Regions from separate parts of the Homo sapiens genome. Here region 2 is linked to region 1. The links come from fine-mapping of genetic effects on gene expression. Tissue or cell type: subcutaneous fat. Region 1 holds a variant in brackets; the other region holds the start of a gene. All regions are shown on one strand. Distances are between the middles of the regions.

Region 1 (8,263 bases):
ACCAGCCCTGGGTCAAAAACATAGGATGTGGGTGAGCACACAGTGGGGCACTGGGCAGTACGGACTGAGTCACCAGACAGTACCTGAGCCATAGAGGGCTGCTGCTGGGGAGGAAGCAGACAGAGGTGCAATGGAGGTGAATGTGCCACGCTAGAGTCAAGCGCCTTCATCAAGATTTAAGGAGAGGGGGAGTGAAGGACTGGAGTAGAAACCACAGGTACAGACATGGAGAAGGTAAGGCCGTTACAGCCTGAGGAGAACAGCGGAGGTTTTAAACGCCTGGCAGGTCTCAGTGGAACTGCTTCCTCAACTCACAGATTAGCTTCTTTTTACCGACTCAGCTTCCTTTCCTGATAAGCCCAGTTGCCATGTAGACTTTGTCAGAATTTAATGCTCTCTTTAAACCAGTGGGTCTCAATATCATTAGAATCATGTGGGAAGCTTTGTTAAAAAGAAAAAAAAAGATGCCTGGGTTCCACTCACCTAGGTCAACAGAATCAGAATCTCTAGGGAGGTGGAGGTGGCATAGGGTTGGTGGAGTTGGGCCCAGGCATATGTGATTTCTTTAGAAGTTCACCATGTGATTCTGATGCCCAGTGAAGGTCGAGAACCATTGCCTTCAGCACTCTTACTTTGAGTAAACAGGATCATTCCCCGCTTTTGAGATTTAAAATTTTAGAATGCTGCAGCTAGATAATACTTTGTGGCGGTGTTTCTCAAACTTTCATGTGCATGTGAATCACCTGGGGATCCTGTTAAAAAGCAGATTCTGGTTTAGGTGACTGGAAGTGGGGCCTAAGCTGTGGCATTTCTCACTCATGTCCCTGTGACATGGGAGCTGCTGGAGTGAGGACCACCTTGATTGCAGTGGAGCTTTAGATCGAATACAGATGGAATGCTGCCTCTGTGCCAGACCCTGTGCTTAGTGCTGTACATTCAGTGCATTCTCACAGCCTCTGAAAGAGGTACTGTTTATAATTCCATTTTACAGGTACGTAAACTAAGGCCTAGATAAGTTAAGTATCTTGTTCAGGATAATAATGCTGGTAAGTAATAAGAGGCAGAATCTGGATCTAGATGGTCTGATTCCAGAAACTGTGAGCTGAACCACAATGTAATACCACTTCAAAGGCAGGATGGGGCTCAGGGGAGGACCTGCAGTTGGAAGAGGTGTTCAAGGACTTGTACTGAAGCTGTGTTTGTATAACAACAAGGTTTTGTTTTCATTTGAGATAGCCCCTGGAAGAGGCGAATAAAAACAGGTATTACAGAGGAGCTAAAGCACTCTAAGCCACTCCTTGGCCTGTCCCTGTAGGCCATGCCTTCATGTTGCTGGGCAGGAACAGGAGTTCATTGCAAGGTGTATATCGCAATTCAGTGGCAATATATTTCAGGTGTCACTGTATATCTCATAGATAGCCAGGTGGCTTCTGACCTTGTGATGACTTTGTTGTCAGAACTGAGGCCCCTTGGATTGTCATGACCTGGCCCTTGCCTGCTTTTCCCCCTCCTCTTCCACAGCTGCCTCCCTGACTTACCCAATGGCAAGCTCTAGACACATTAACTGCTTTCAGTTCCCTGACGGTATCACAATTTTATACTTCATGAATGTTGTCTTCTCTATTGGATGTCTTTGTTATCCTTTTCTTGCCAGGTTAAATGCTACCTTGTTCAACATCCCGGACAATGTAGTTCTTTCAAAAAGAATTTTCTAACCCTCCCAGCCAGGATTAAGTAATTCCCCTCCTCCTTTGGTCTGTCATAGTCCCCTGTTTCTTTTAATTAGAGCACTTAAGTAATTTACTTTTCTATTTAGTCAGACGGTGAACCTCTCTAGGGCTGTGCTTCATTTATCTTTGCATCCCAGGGCTTAGTATAGTATTCAGTAGGTGGTGAGAAGGCTGACAAGCATGTGTATTGAATGAATGAGTGACCCTTTTATTCCCAGTCCAGTGTTCTTTCCAACTGATGATTTGACTAAACTAGTAGTTTTCAATCCTGACTGTAGGGTTTTTAAAATAATCTGGATCATACCCAAGTCAGCTAAATCACAATCTCTTGGGGGTGAGGCCTAGGCATCTGTGTTTTTAGCAAAGTTCCCCAAGTGATTCTAAGATGTAGCCAGGTTGAGAACCAAGGGATTAACCTTTCAGAGTTACTCTTGCTGTGGTTGGAGCATAATAGTTGAAAGTAACATAGAGGAAAATTGTTGTCTGTCTTCAAAACTGAAAAGGAGAAATAGAAGGAAATATATGGGTAAACTGATCACTTACCTAGGCCTTTTGAAAGTAAATATATAAAACAACAGCATTTTAAGGCTGGGATAAGGAAATGTCATAAAACCCAATAATCAATTACGAAGTATGACACTTCTAAAAAGTTGGGAATCATTTTTCTAAAATTATATTAGTATATCATCCCAATCTGTGCTTTTTTGGCTATTTTTATCCATATATCATTTGCCTTGAGTGCTAGTGAATGATCTTTAAAGGCTTTCAACAAATGACTCACCATTCTCTTACTTTATAATATAGTATGCTAATTGGCAGTCATCTTAGGAGTGTTAAAATATGGCAACAATAACATGAAGTTAATTGTAAAGAAAGGGAGTTGGCTCTTTGTGGCTCTAGATCATTCCAGGTATGAGCAGACTTGTAAATACATCTGTTTATTCATTCTCCATGCAAACATTTGGTACTTATCTTCTCTCGGACAAAGTGCTACATATTGGAGGAAAAAGGGTAATATAAGACACCCTCCCAGAAGTTCTCTGTCTTAAATATGAATAATTAACAGTGCACCATGATATGCACAATGGAGGTCCACTCCAATGAGCACAGGAGGGAAGACGTGTCAGGGAAGGTTCACATGAAGCTCACCTACACGCACATAATATACAGCAGTGGTGTCAGGGCACGGATGACATTTCAGATGGTACTGAAAGGACAGCTCCAGGCACACAGCCCAGGTTGGTGGGATCTTGGCTCATTGCAGCCTTGACCTCCCTAGGCTCAGGTGATCCTCCCACCTCAGCCTCCTGAGGAGCTGGGGCTACAGGTGCCGCACCACGCCTAGCTAATTTGTGATTTTTGGTAGAGAAAGAGTTTCAACATGTTGCCCCGGCTGGTCTCAAACTCCTGGGCTCAAGCAATCTGCCTGCCTCAGCCTCCCAAAGTGCTGGGATTATAGGCATGAGCCATCACGCTCAGCCTGATGTGTTTGTGTTTGATTAAATCCATGGCACAAGATTTAATGTGGCATTACAAATGCTGTAATCTCAGCATTTTGGGAGGCTAGGATGGGAGGCTCAGCATTTTGAGAGGCTGAGATGGGAGGCTCAGCACTTGAGTCCAGGAGTTTGAGATCAGCCTGGACAACATAGCAAAACTCTGTTTCCACCTTAAACAAAAAACAACCATAGCACATCCTAATAGAGTTTTATTGGAGACTCACTCTCAAAAAGAGCCCTAAAAGAATTAAATAATGGTATTTAACTGACAGACACATGAAAAAATCTGGTTTCATATCTCAAAGTAACACTAACAGTTTCTTATGCCAGCAGAG[G/A]AAGATCATGTTTTAGAGAGATGGAGGTTTGACCATCTTCAGATAGTGACCTGCCCTTGCAGTACTTCAGAGCTCATCAAAGAGAGGAAGAGAAAAATGGAGTCACAGACTGCCAATTACTGCTTTTGCCTGGAAACAATGCATTTCACTTCCTTTTCTCATTTCATTGGCCAGAAATAATTACATAGCTATGTATAAAATAAGGGGGATGGGGGAATTATAATCTTTGTGTGTCCTGAAGTGGAGAACACTTGAATACGGGGGAATGTTACTAATGTCTACCATAGTCAGTCTCTTCAGCTTCACCCATGTGTGTTGGAAATAGAAGGGTGTGCTCTTCAGACATGAAGAAGAAAAAAATGACTTCATTACTATTGGTTATTATTCTTTTTATATTCTAATATATGTAGGATTGTTGCCAATAAGATTTTTATTTAAGATTGGTAGCAAGACCGGTCTTCATCAATATTAAAACAATTATTTTAAAGCTTTGAAATTAAGTTAAAGGCTATTACTTAAAGCAGCATGAATACGAATTCCAAGTAACAATCAGTATGATGATTGCCTTACTAAAATAACTTCAATTGAATCAATGTGCCCATGTGGAACACCTAGGGATTACAGGAGCAACTTCCATATAGAAGTTACCTCAGTGAGCTGGTTTCAAGCATGAGCCAGCAATGCAAATGCAGGCATATCACTTAAAAAAAAAAAAGAGATGAGGTCTGTCTCTCTCGCCTAGGCTGTAGCACAGTGGCAAAATCACGGCTCACTGCAGCCTAGAACTTGTGGGCTTAAGGGTTCCTCCTGCCTCAGCCTCCCAAGTAGCTGGGACCACAGGTGTGTGCCACCACACCTGGCTAATTAATTTTTTTTTTTTTTTTTTTTTTACAAACAGGGTCTCACCATCTTGCTCAGGCTGGTCTTGAACTCTTGGCCTCAGGTGATCCTCCCACCTTGGCCTCCCAAAGTGCTGGGATTACAGGCATGAGCCACTGTGCCAATGTGCCTGGCCCATTCGAAATACAAGATATATGCATTGTTTTGGTTTTTTAAAATTGCTTTCAAAATCTCTCACACACTACCACTTCTTTCCCCACTGTAGTCAGGAAGGAGGCAAGATTTGGGGAAGAGAAAGGATGGAATCCACTCAGGCTAGTTTTGGTGGAAGTAAAACAGTTTTCTAAGGAAAAAAGGGAACTACACTGTTTCTTTCTTTCCTCCTCCTTGGCTAACGTGTCAAGTGGTTAGGGGACCGTTATTCCCCTCCTTAGCTGGCCCTCTGGAGACTAGCGCTGTCCAATAGACCTTCCTATCCCTGCAATAATGAATATGGTAGCCACTAGGCACAGACGGCTATTGAGTACTGGAAGTGTGGCTACTGCAACTGAGGAACTAAACTCTAATTTTATTGAATTTACTAACTTTAAGTAGCCATGTGAATTCAGGTGATAGGAGAGAGGGAGGTTGTTCTTATTCCTGTTTTCGGTGTAGATTTTTCTGTACATCACAATGATTTTATCTTCCACACAAGATGTTGAAGATGAGCTGAGTCAGTGGGGGATCGGGTGGGAGTGAAGCGTGGACCGAGGCAGAGCCTGCTGCAATGCCTCCCTTCCTAGCCAGTGCAGACCAGGCTCCCTTCATGATCACTGGCGGACAGGACCAAGTGATGCCCAAAGACGGCACAGACACTAAAATGGGGACGATTACATGAATCTCAGACCTGATTTTGTTTTAAAGCCTATGACTTAGGATATGAGAAAAGAAGAAAGAGGCAAATAAACCTAGTGTGGTAACCTTTTAACATAGCATTAGCATCCATTTTTTCATAATATATTTGGATATAAAATCTTTATTGTGCTCAAAATTCTTATTAAAAATGCAGTGAACTGTAGTTTGTACATTTGCAGCCTCTCATTCCTCAAATTGTTCTTTTGTAAGAAATAATTTCTTTGATGGTCATTGTTTAATGAAAGACATGGGCAGTTATAAAAGAAAACTAATGTCATCAAACATTCATCTGGTGACTCCTATGTGCTGGTGCTATGCTAACAATGAATGGCACTTTGCAACACTAATTTTTAGCAAAATAACGACTTCTTAGCTGTAAAGTCCCCATGGGTGTGTGTCCTAGAGGCATATATTCTTTTCTATCTTTGTCTACGGTTCATTTTGGAAAACACCTACTTTTATTACACGATTGTAAAAATTAGTGCTCATATTAAACAATTTAATGAACCGAAGTGCCTCAGTCCTTTCGAAGCCTGACTGGCCTCCTCTAGATCTTTGGGCAGAGGTCAATGTAGAGTGATTTGCTGAAATGCTTGGATTTTATTCTTGAGATTTAACATGAAGGCAAGTGAGTGAAGTGAGGTAGGAAAGCACGTATGATTTCAAGATAATCTGATTTTTTAAAAGATAGAACATTTCACTTTCTGAATTAAAATTATCATCTTAAATAACCTTATCTCAAAGGAAGTCCTATTCCAAACATAATATCTAACAACATCAAATTTTTTTCTACCAGTACATACGTATAAACAGGAAAACTATTTTTTAGCGGAAAGTTAATTGTTGATACCACCATATTTGTACTCAAATGCAAGACCATTTCTAGTTCCACCCTCCCCACCGTACATTCCAGAGCCCACCTTTATTTTACCCTGACATTGTACCAGCATAAAATTCCAATATGCTAATTACTTCTCCAGATCATGCCATAGTTCTGATGCCATAAGACAAATATTAAAGGTTTACTTTTTATGTTCAGAATAATTGGGTAATTGTCGTCATCCTGTGACAGGTTTCCCTTTTTCCTGAGGTCTTTTGACTAATGGTTCTATTGTTATTGTTGGAGTGGCTCATGCCCCATTGTGTCATGACGCAAAACTTGATCTGTGGTAGAAATGCCTTACACATTTATTCCCTCCAGGAAACCAAAGGGCAAGAAAGTAACATTCCAGATTGAGAACCTGGCTTTTTGCACCATGACCTAACCTGTTCCAGGTGAAAAATATTAGGCCAAAAATAGTTTCATGAGAAAATTTTTACGTGAGTTCCTGCAGTGGTTCTCAGTACTAGCTGCTTGTTAATTAGTTAGTTAATTGATGGGCAGCTTAAAGCAATCACTATGTGGGCCCCACCTGAAACTTGTTAAAAAAGACTGATTTCTGGGGGCCCCATTATATGCTGTTGAAATTTAGACTCTCCACAGGAGGGTCCTGGGTATCTGTACTTTAAACAAAACTCTCAGATTATCAAATAAATTTGGTCAACTTGATTTAAGGTATTGATCTTGGGAAAGAGCACTTCATACTTTTTTTGAAATAAACTTAGTGGCCTTCAAGACATATTTCTAATGCCAGTATCTTACTTGTCTTCTTTTACTTATTTGCATATGAATACTATTAAAGAAGGAATATTTAACCATAGAGAAGGTTTGTTTACATTTTTGTCTTCAGCCAAATCAAGCCTTTCATAATTTTATGTATTAAAAATAAAATTTAGATCAGACTCCCATCTCTACAAAAAATGCAAAAATTATTGTAGCCAGGTGCGGTGGTATGTGCCTGTAGTCCCAGCTGCTTGGGTGGCTGAGGAAGGAAGATCGCTTGAGTCCAGGAGTTTGAGGCTGCAGTGAGCTATGATTGCATCACTGCATTGCAGGCTGGGCAACAGAGTGAGAACCTGTCTAAAATAAATTGCATTTTCAAGTTGTACTTTCAGCAGCACCAGATAGTATGCTGGAGCTCAGAGGCCAGGAGAGGAGCACTTTCCCTCTACTTATTATAAGAGGTAACTTAATACTGATGGAGGAGTGTCTTGGGTTCTTACACTTGGAGACCAATTTGTCATTCCATTCAACACAAAATAACAAGGGATTCACTAGTTCATACATTATTTCTATTCAACAAATGTCGTTTGACTGTCTACTGTATGCCATACTGTGTTAGGTATCAGGGATACAAAATAAAGTAAATTGGGATTTTTTTCTTGTTAGAACTGGTAGGTTAGAGCAGATATTCTTAAGGTGTGATCTCTATCCAGCAGCATTGGCATCCCTGGAAACTTGTTAGAATTGCATATTCTCTTGCCTTACCCCAGACCCACTAAATCTGATTCTCCATAAAGCTTGAGAACCACTGGCCTCTAGGAGGAGCGATCAGTTCAGCAGAAAATTAGAGTACCTTGTGGTAGATACAGTGGAGATGGGGAGGAGGCTAGGACTTTAGGAATGTTTCTGGGAGGAAGAGATGCTTGAGCTCTCTAAAATATTTGGTGCAGAGTGGGGGGAGGTGTTCCTAGAGAGGTCAGCAGGAGCCACACAAAAAGCCATGTTGCATTTTACTCTGAATGCAACATGGAATCTTTTGGACCCTATAGTCAGTTCATTTACAATTATCATCAATGTGATCTTTTGACCAGACTTTTAGCTAAGTGGTGCTGGTCTTGAGCTCTGTGTTTCAGGTGCTTCCTCAGATATGGGAAGTTAGAGAAATGCAGGTGTAAAAAATTCCTCTCGCATTAAAATCTAACACAGTAGTGTTAAATAAAGATTTGGTGAATAAACACAAATAAATGAAAGAGTGGATAAAGCTAGGATTTGGGGAAGGTAAGGAAAATGTGTAATGAAAACATAGCAGCATAAGCACTGGTTTTTGAGTGAATTGAAAATCCCATGGCATTCAAAAAATTA
Region 2 (8,000 bases), 970 kb after region 1:
AATGCAGGGAGCTGGCTGACCACCGAGTTTATTTTAAATACATATAAATCAACCCGCCTGCACCCAGCCCGGCAGCTCAAGACACAGAATTAATATGACGCTCCATCTTACTTTGGCAGTAAAGTGTAAAAAAGTTTTAATTTCTTTTTCAGCCCATTCTCCTAAGTGCACATTTAGCCCCCAAATATTTCCTCCAGCACTCAATCCCCTCACCAGATCCCCTCCTTAAACTGCTACTACCACCCCCAATGCTGCCGGCCACCCTCCAAGCCTGGCAAGGTAGTGTCCTCCTAACCCTTTGGTAGGCGGGGAACGTCCCCACAAAGCGCGCCTTGTTACGATTAATCACCGTCCTCCATGTATATGTAGCAGTGTATCTAGGTCTACGCGGGCTGCCTCACCAATTGGCAATAATCAAGATCACAGATTACACAAAATAAATCATATTTAATATCCCGCTCAGGGCGGCAAGCAGCCCCGTGCCCAAAGATTTCCATTTTGTCATGCAATTGCTTACCTGGATCCCAATTTATCATAAACCTGGTGTCCTCGGCCTCAGAGTGGGCGCCAGTGGGGGGCAGAGCTAGCCTTCCCCCTTTGTCTGCAGACAACACTGTCCCAACCCTGGTCTTGCGCGCTCGCAGACACGGCCATATACTCGAGCACACGGAATTCCCGGTAGAACGGAACCAGGCTGAGGTTCAACTACCAATAAACGCAGGAGGAACGAGTTCGTAGTCCCCGAGCTGGCTTCGCCTGCGCTGCGCGCCCATCGGTCCACCCGCCCGCCCGTCCGCTCTCGGGCCCAGAGCGGCAGCCACCCGCGCCCCCACCCACTCCTGGGTTTCTGCCCAGCCCTCCCAGGCCCCCCAGAGCTTGGGATTTGTTTTGCTTGCGGAACGTGGTCGTTTCTGGATTTGGAGAGAGCCCCGGAAACCCCCTCATAGTCGGGAAATACAGACGCTGCCTTCAAATGCAAGCATATTTGTTCACGTGACCCCGAGGGAAGCTTGTACTGATTGAGGCTGAAACTTTCACGCCACCCAGTCCCGGAGCGCAGCCAAGCCTGGGGGCTGGAAGGAAGGGCGCAGGAGGCTTGGGACCTGGGCCCCATTCCTGGGGCAGACGCGGATGGGTGTGGGGCGGAAGGAAAGAACACATTTTCGCAGCTCCGGGCCGACTCAGTCTTGGCCTGGCCGCCCTCAGTGGGTTGGGGGCGTTGAGAGTCTCTCCCCACAACGACCTCTGACCCTGGCTGGGCCTTCCGCCAGACTGGTCCGGGAGCTGGAAATTTTAGAAACTGCCTCTCTTAGAAGCGTCTCTGGAGACTGCCGTGGAGCAGCAGAGGCTGAGGGTACCCCTAGCTTCCCGGGCCCGCGGAGTACTCCGCAGCCTCATGCACCCCGGCAAGGCGGCCTCCCCGCCGCGGAGGCCGACGCCCAGCTCCTCCCAGGGCGAGGACCCGCTCCGGCCCAAAGGTGGAAGCCGCGACTCTCAGCTCTGGCCAGTCACCTCAGAAAACCCCGCCACCACCACCATTCCGTGGCTCGTTCCGCGGACTCAGCAGCCGAGTCACCGCCACTTCTGAGACAGAAAAGGCGCGTAGCAGGCGACCCGGACCCAGAGCGACCTCCCCTCTCTGATCCCTGAGCACCCCAACCTGGTCCTTCGAGGCCTGGAGCCGCCTAGGCGCTGAGCCACTGCCCGCCGTGATCTGTGCGACTCCAGGTCTGGGCAGGACCCGCAGATCCCACAGGCCCAGCAACCGCCAAGCCGCGACTTCCCGCTTCCTGCGGCGCCTCCAGGAAGGCGAGGAGGACTGCGCAATGAGTCCTGGCTGGGCTAACCTGGGGGACAATGAAACTTATATTTTAGAAATATTAAACCAAGACAGATTCCCACCACTCTCCGAGTGGCTGGTGGGAATGATTCTGCAATGTGGGAAAAAAGAATTAAGCGTGCCAGCGCCAGCAGCGGACCTCCTGGCCTGTAATGAGCGCCCAAGACCCTCCCCCAGCCGGGGCCACACTCGGGAATCCCGCACCACGGGGAACTCTCCACCCTGTCCCCGAAGTTTTGGTTTCGTTGCCAGCTCTGCTCAGCGGCATCAGGCACAGTGAAATGCTCTGTTGCTGATTGCAGGGTCTGAGACCGGTGAAAGTGCCCAGCAGCCATAGAAGAGCCCCAGAGGAGTGGGTAAGGTCCACCGCATCCCCACTCCAGAGGCGCAGGAATGTCCTGGAGGCCCGAGCCCCCAGAACCGTCTACGAGCCCATCCTTTTGTTCACCTGGCCGGGCCTGGCCAGAGGCCCACTCGGGGCGTCTCTCGAAGCCGGATCGTGGGTGACCCCAGCCCACCCCCACCCGGAGGACCCCGCCCCCTAGCCTCTTGCCAGAGGCCGACCTGACGGCCAGCAGCAAGTGTTAATCCCCAGCCAAAGAGGGGGGCTGCTTTGCGGGAATTTGTCTCCAGGAAAGGATCTAAGCCTTCTTCAATCGGAGCATATGTTCATAGAGCAATAAACCGGAAAGATTTACAGTCCTCGCCCGGCCCCCAACAGTCTCGCACCCTTTCAGGAATTACTTACGATGATTTATCACACCAACCCGGGCAATTGTCACACTGATAAAATAGCCCGGGCCAGTGCCCGCCAAGCCGGGGCCTTGGGAGGCTGTTGGCTGCCGGGCTGCCAGCAGGGCTGGGGAAGCTTTTTGTGGGTTCCTCTCTGGGCCTACAAGGGGATATCTAGGTGGGTTGGAGTGGGTTGGAGTGGGGGGGGTGGGAGGGGAGACGATTCTCATTGAGAAAAATGCAAGCAGCTCAGAGAAAGCGCCTGGAATCTGCGCCCGAGTCACTCGCAAAGCACATAAACATTTGTCATCTTTGAATAATTGAATTAATGTGTTATTGTTTGAATGTATAATTCATAATGGGGGAAACTTTGTTTCTGTCCTGACGGGGAAATATACACACACCAAAAAATAAATGAAAACACACACACACACAAACACACACGCACACATAATCCCAAAACAACCACCACGCGCAGCCAGCCCCTGCTCGCTGAAATCATTCTGAAAGCCAATGGAGGTATCTCACAGCAACAAGAGGGAAGGAGGCGAATGAAGAGGCGCCCGGGTCGGAGCTGCAAGCTGGAAGAAAAGAATGCTCGCTACTGCCCCAGCCCACGACCCTGGCAAGCTGGGGATGGGGTGGAACGGAGCGGAGTGGCTCTTAGGACACCCAATTTTCTTGGAGTGCCGGTGAAAAAAGGCAGAAACGGGAGCGAGCAGAGAAACAGCCTTCTGCAGCCCGCACTGGCCTCTCCCCCATCCTCCTTTCCCCAGGCTTCCCGTCGCCCCGGGGTCTCCCACTCGGGCTGCAGGGACTTCTTCTCGCGTTTATTTTAGCTCTTCCAAAATAGAAATAAAAAATACAAACACAAAAATAAACGGGAAAGAAGAAGAAACTCGCTGGGGTGACAGAGGCAGCAGAACTTGGGTGGGGAGAGAGGAGCGGGGGGAGAGGCAACTCGGAAATCATTATCTGTTGGTTAAAACCTGCCTGGGGTAAAATTTCAACTCGATTTTATAGCCTTCTATTATGACGCAAAGAAAAATTTACGACCCTCGCTTGAAAAGAGGGCCAGGGCCTTTTCTCACCGGTTTAAGAATAGGCGGCAGATGCCGTGACAGCGACCATTGTTCCTGGTAGACACAGGCGACCAGGCAACCTCGGCCCGCGTGCGCCAGGCGCGTCCGCCAGCCGGGCCGGTTTTTTACAACTCCTGTTGTCTTGGAGCAGCCCGCGTGCACCTCGCCCCTCACCCCTCGCCCCCTGGCACCCTAGCGCCTCGCACACACACCCTCTCCCTATCTCTGTCTCTGTCTCTGTCTCTCCCTCTCTCACACACACAAGCGCGCGCGCGGACGCACGCACACACACACACACTCGGCCGCTCTCAGTAATTTTTCATAAGTGCAAAGCTTTGCTGAACCAAAGGTCACCATCCAAGCCACTAACAACTTCTCGCCGGCGCGCAGTTCCAAATCAGGAAGCAAAGGGAACTATTTGTCAGCGGCCGTGACAGCTAAGTTCATTAAGGATTTAAATCTGATGAAATAAAAGTTGCCAAAATATTTACCTGCGGCCGCGCTCCCGCGCCCGCCGGGGGCCGGGGGTGGAGGGCCGGGGGCACCGCGCGGCCCCCCTGGACGGGTGATATTCTTGGGATCCCTGCACTTTCCAAGTCGGAGAGAGCCCTTTGCGTGGCAGATTAATGACGACTCCGTGTTTCTTAAGGGACGTGCTGAATTAATTATTTCGCCAATCACGTGGTCGGGACTTGTAGAAATCTATTCTTATCATCTTCCTCGCACTTAGAAAATTCTCCGGGTTATGAAAGGCCCTCCCCCGGCTGCCAGCGAGCCCCGGCCGCCCAGCCCGGCGCGGGGGGCAGGGAGGGCTCCCCAACATGGCGGGCAGGCGGGCGGGAAGCGCCGTCCGCCGAGGGTCCCGATTTACTGTACTCTATACTCAGCGGGCTCTGCTATGGACTCGCTTCCTCCTCATCCCTGCCCGCGATTCAATACACACAACGGTATTGATGTATTGGTGGGCACGGGAGGAGCCATTAAGCAGAAGACGGGCAGAGGACAATCATAAAATGTGTCTGAATATTTAAACTTCTGCCTGCGCACTTATAAATACACATGTCCACGCGTCTGGGGCAAGCCCTTCCATATATTAAGGACAGATGTCTGATTTTATGCATTCTGCTCATTTCCTGTCTGGAACAAGCACCCCCATCTATTTTGGGACTCCTGTCTTGGCCCCTTCTTCAAGGCGAGGCCAAGATGTAAAGAAGCCCTTGCGGTAAATGTAGTGCAGGGCACTTTTTATAGTGGGGAGTGTTTATTGTTGCCTGAGGGGTGGAGGGGGCGCGGAAGAAGGAGGGGCAGGTGCTGGAGTCCCCACAGGAGCTTAACAGTACTGGAAAAGTAGAAGCCCAAGAGTGGAGGCCCGGGGGTCAGGTCAGAGCAGCCACCCAGGAGCCTCAGCTCGGCCCAGAACCCAGCACGCTCTCCCTGCCTTAGGGGTGGGGGACCAGTAAGGTGTCTCATCCACCACTTCCCAAAGACTTCCTCTGAGGGCTTCCAGACCAAAAAGGTCTGGGGCCTGGCCCGGGCCCAGCAGAATGCCAACCTGGATCCCCCTATTAACCTGGGCAATTACTTTTTCTTCAAAAAATTAACACCCAACACTCTGTACCCTGAATTCAACCCCAGGCTTCCCAATGCTCACAAAATATGGTGGCCAACTGGGAGTGTGTGTACATTAAGGAGGTGGTAATAATAGAATTGCTAAGCCTTACATGGTTTAACCTTCACACTTTAGGCACCCCCCAAAAAATGGTGCCTAATTTATTGCAGAAAATAATAACTTGTTTATGTTAAATGTTAGCTTTTAGAAGACTTAACAAAGGATGAATGCTTCTGTTAAGGCACCAAACAGGAGGGAGATTTTGCTACACCTTTTATTATTTTAAATATAGATCAATGAATTACATCAAAACTACAAGCAACAATTAGTATAAATAATACTTTAATCAGTGGCAGCAAAACATTGGTCAATTCTATTAAAAAAGCATCTCGTGTGAACAGACATCATGGGCTGACTGACAGTGTCATCTCCCAACAAAAGGCTGCGATGGACAAAGTGAGATGGGAGTCAGAGGAGCAATGTCCTCAGCAAACACTTCACTCTCCCCCTCCCCCAGTCAGGACCCCAACACGGTTTTTGTTTTTGTTTTTAAAACACCAACACAAACACTTCTGGCTCATATTTAAAGGAACAAACTGGAAACAAATAATAGCAAATGGGCATTGGAGCTTTTCCACACCTAGCTTTCTCCAAAGCACGTTCTCAGATGGAAACCCATTTCCTTCCCTGCCCTAAGTGGTTACGGGGCCCTACCCCTTCCCTGGCCCACTCCTGTGGGCCCAAATGGATGCTGGGGTCCGACTGGGACCTCAGGGTTGGGGGCTGCACTCTGGGCCATCCAGGCTCCATTAACATTTCAAAAGAATCCCTCCAAGCTGAGAAGGAGAGCTGAGACTTATAAACAAAGAAGTTGTTTCTCTGATTAAGTTACTTTCCAAAGTAGTGGGGCTATGTTTGAGAAGGAGCTTGGGTTTTCCTCATGAAAACATGTTTCTTGGCTTTCCTCTGGGGCAGGGATGCAGTCAGTTAAGCCTGTGTGGCATTTGGTATGAAACTGGGGGTGAGTAACCTGAACTTCTGAGGTGGGGGAAAATCTATACAACAAATCTCTATTATATATATGTAATTGGATGTTGTGAAAATATATACCTTTTTCCCCTTCTCAAAGAGAAGGTTCAATGTATAGACAGATTTGGGTTTTAGGAAAGCAGCTTAGCAACTTTCCAACTTGCCTAAGGATAGCGGCTCCTTTCAAATGGTACATCCAAAGACTGCTCTCCATGTTAGAGAGGAAAAAAGAAGAGAAGGGTAGTTAGAGTCCAAAAGGTTAGGGGTTTAGAGGTCAGTCCTCCCGGCTGAAATACAGCTAATCAAATAGAAAATTTGTCCTCTGGATGAACCTGATTCTGTAATTTACCCGAACTTCGGTAAAATACCTTTTCAGCTTCTCAACGTGAGGGCGTCAGAAAAAAGACGTCTTGACTATGTATGAACTCTGTGCTTTTTGTCATAGAAACAATGATGTGAATAATGCACGAATATCCATCTTTAATATCCCGACGTGGTGACATTCAAGTATTGCCATGTGCAAGTCTGAGAGCCAGGCTCACCCCAAGGAGAAACAAAGAGCAGTCCCCAGGGTCTAATACAAAAGACCAAGGCTTGGAAGACACTTCAGAGAAGCGGAATTTCAGCCTAGGGACTGCAGTGAATACCTGCCCTCAGCTCTCAGGAGACACAGCCAAAGAACAAGCCTACAGAGAAACTCTTTTTTCCCTCCCACTTAAATATATTTTTTAAATTACAACAGAAACCTTCTAAAGTGTTTTTGAAGTACTGAAAAAAATACCCCCCTTCTGGATCTTAAAATTAAATTTTAAGCTTATCCTTTCTCCCTTTCCCACTTTGGTCACTTTTTGATAGCTACAACCTTTTTTGGAGCCTGAGGCCTTGGGAAGACTGGTTTCATCTGAGTATATGAACTCTGGCCATTAACTTTGACTTCTTCCTCCTTATGCTTGAGGGTCAGCATTTTAGAAAAATGAACTTTGAACCCTTCCCAGGAGAGGCAGAAGAAAAACGACTAGAGGACATCTCCCCTGTTGAGAGTGATTCTTTAAAAAACCACTATTCTCAAGGCAAAGACGAGTGCTTGAAAACTTTTATACTTTTACAAATTCTGCTTCTAATTAATGAGCTGAGGAAAACTTCCTTAGATTTGGTTTTTAAAAAAATTAAAACTTCAGGGGGAAAAAAACTCTAAGGCTAACTTTTGTGGACTTCTAGATTCAATTAGGGTTTTTTTTTTTTCCTTCTTAAAGCAAGAGTTCCTCACCTTCCCACTTTCTCCCCACTGCACAGCCCCTCCCCTACACAGGCCATACACTAATTCCTGTAAAACACTGCTATATGAGGGTATTTAGGGCATTTGGAATCCAGTTGGAACAGAAAATTCAGTCATTATCTAATGACCCAGTGCATAGAGGTTTTGTTTTCTTTCCCCAGAAGGAAAATGTTGGACCATTTGTTGGTTTTTTTCCCTTTCCTTTAATCACCCAGAACTGGTTGTAAGCACAGTGCTGAAAAAAACACATGTGGAAATATATTTTCAAGAATGCAACTTTGAGTGAATCCTTTGCTTCCTTCTGGAAGGGTTAAGGCCCCCCTATATACATTTCCAGAGAGTGGGGAGGGGTGGAGTTCAGAAGTAAGTGCACATATCTCTGATTCTGCTCCCTGAAGTTCAGCCCCTTTCACCTTTTTAAGATTTTTGGCA

What was found. PIP is the estimated chance that this variant, and not a neighbour inherited with it, causes the effect.
Region 2: it holds the start of HOXD3, and the variant in region 1 is fine-mapped to the expression of HOXD3 in subcutaneous fat (GTEx, PIP 0.95).

Annotation. Positions count from the first base shown.
Region 1 is chr2:177,122,724-177,130,986 of GRCh38, reverse strand. The region is part of intron 1 of LOC105373760 (a long non-coding RNA gene); the gene reads left to right. Among named protein-coding and RNA genes, the nearest start is that of MIR4444-1, 86 kb to the left of the region's middle. The variant G/A (reference allele first, on the strand shown) is at 3,565.
Region 2 is chr2:176,153,598-176,161,597 of GRCh38, reverse strand. HOXD3 (homeobox D3) reads right to left here and starts at 4,291. Exons shown (of 4, transcript NM_006898.5): 1 at 4,146-4,291. RefSeq lists an enhancer at 5,828-6,331.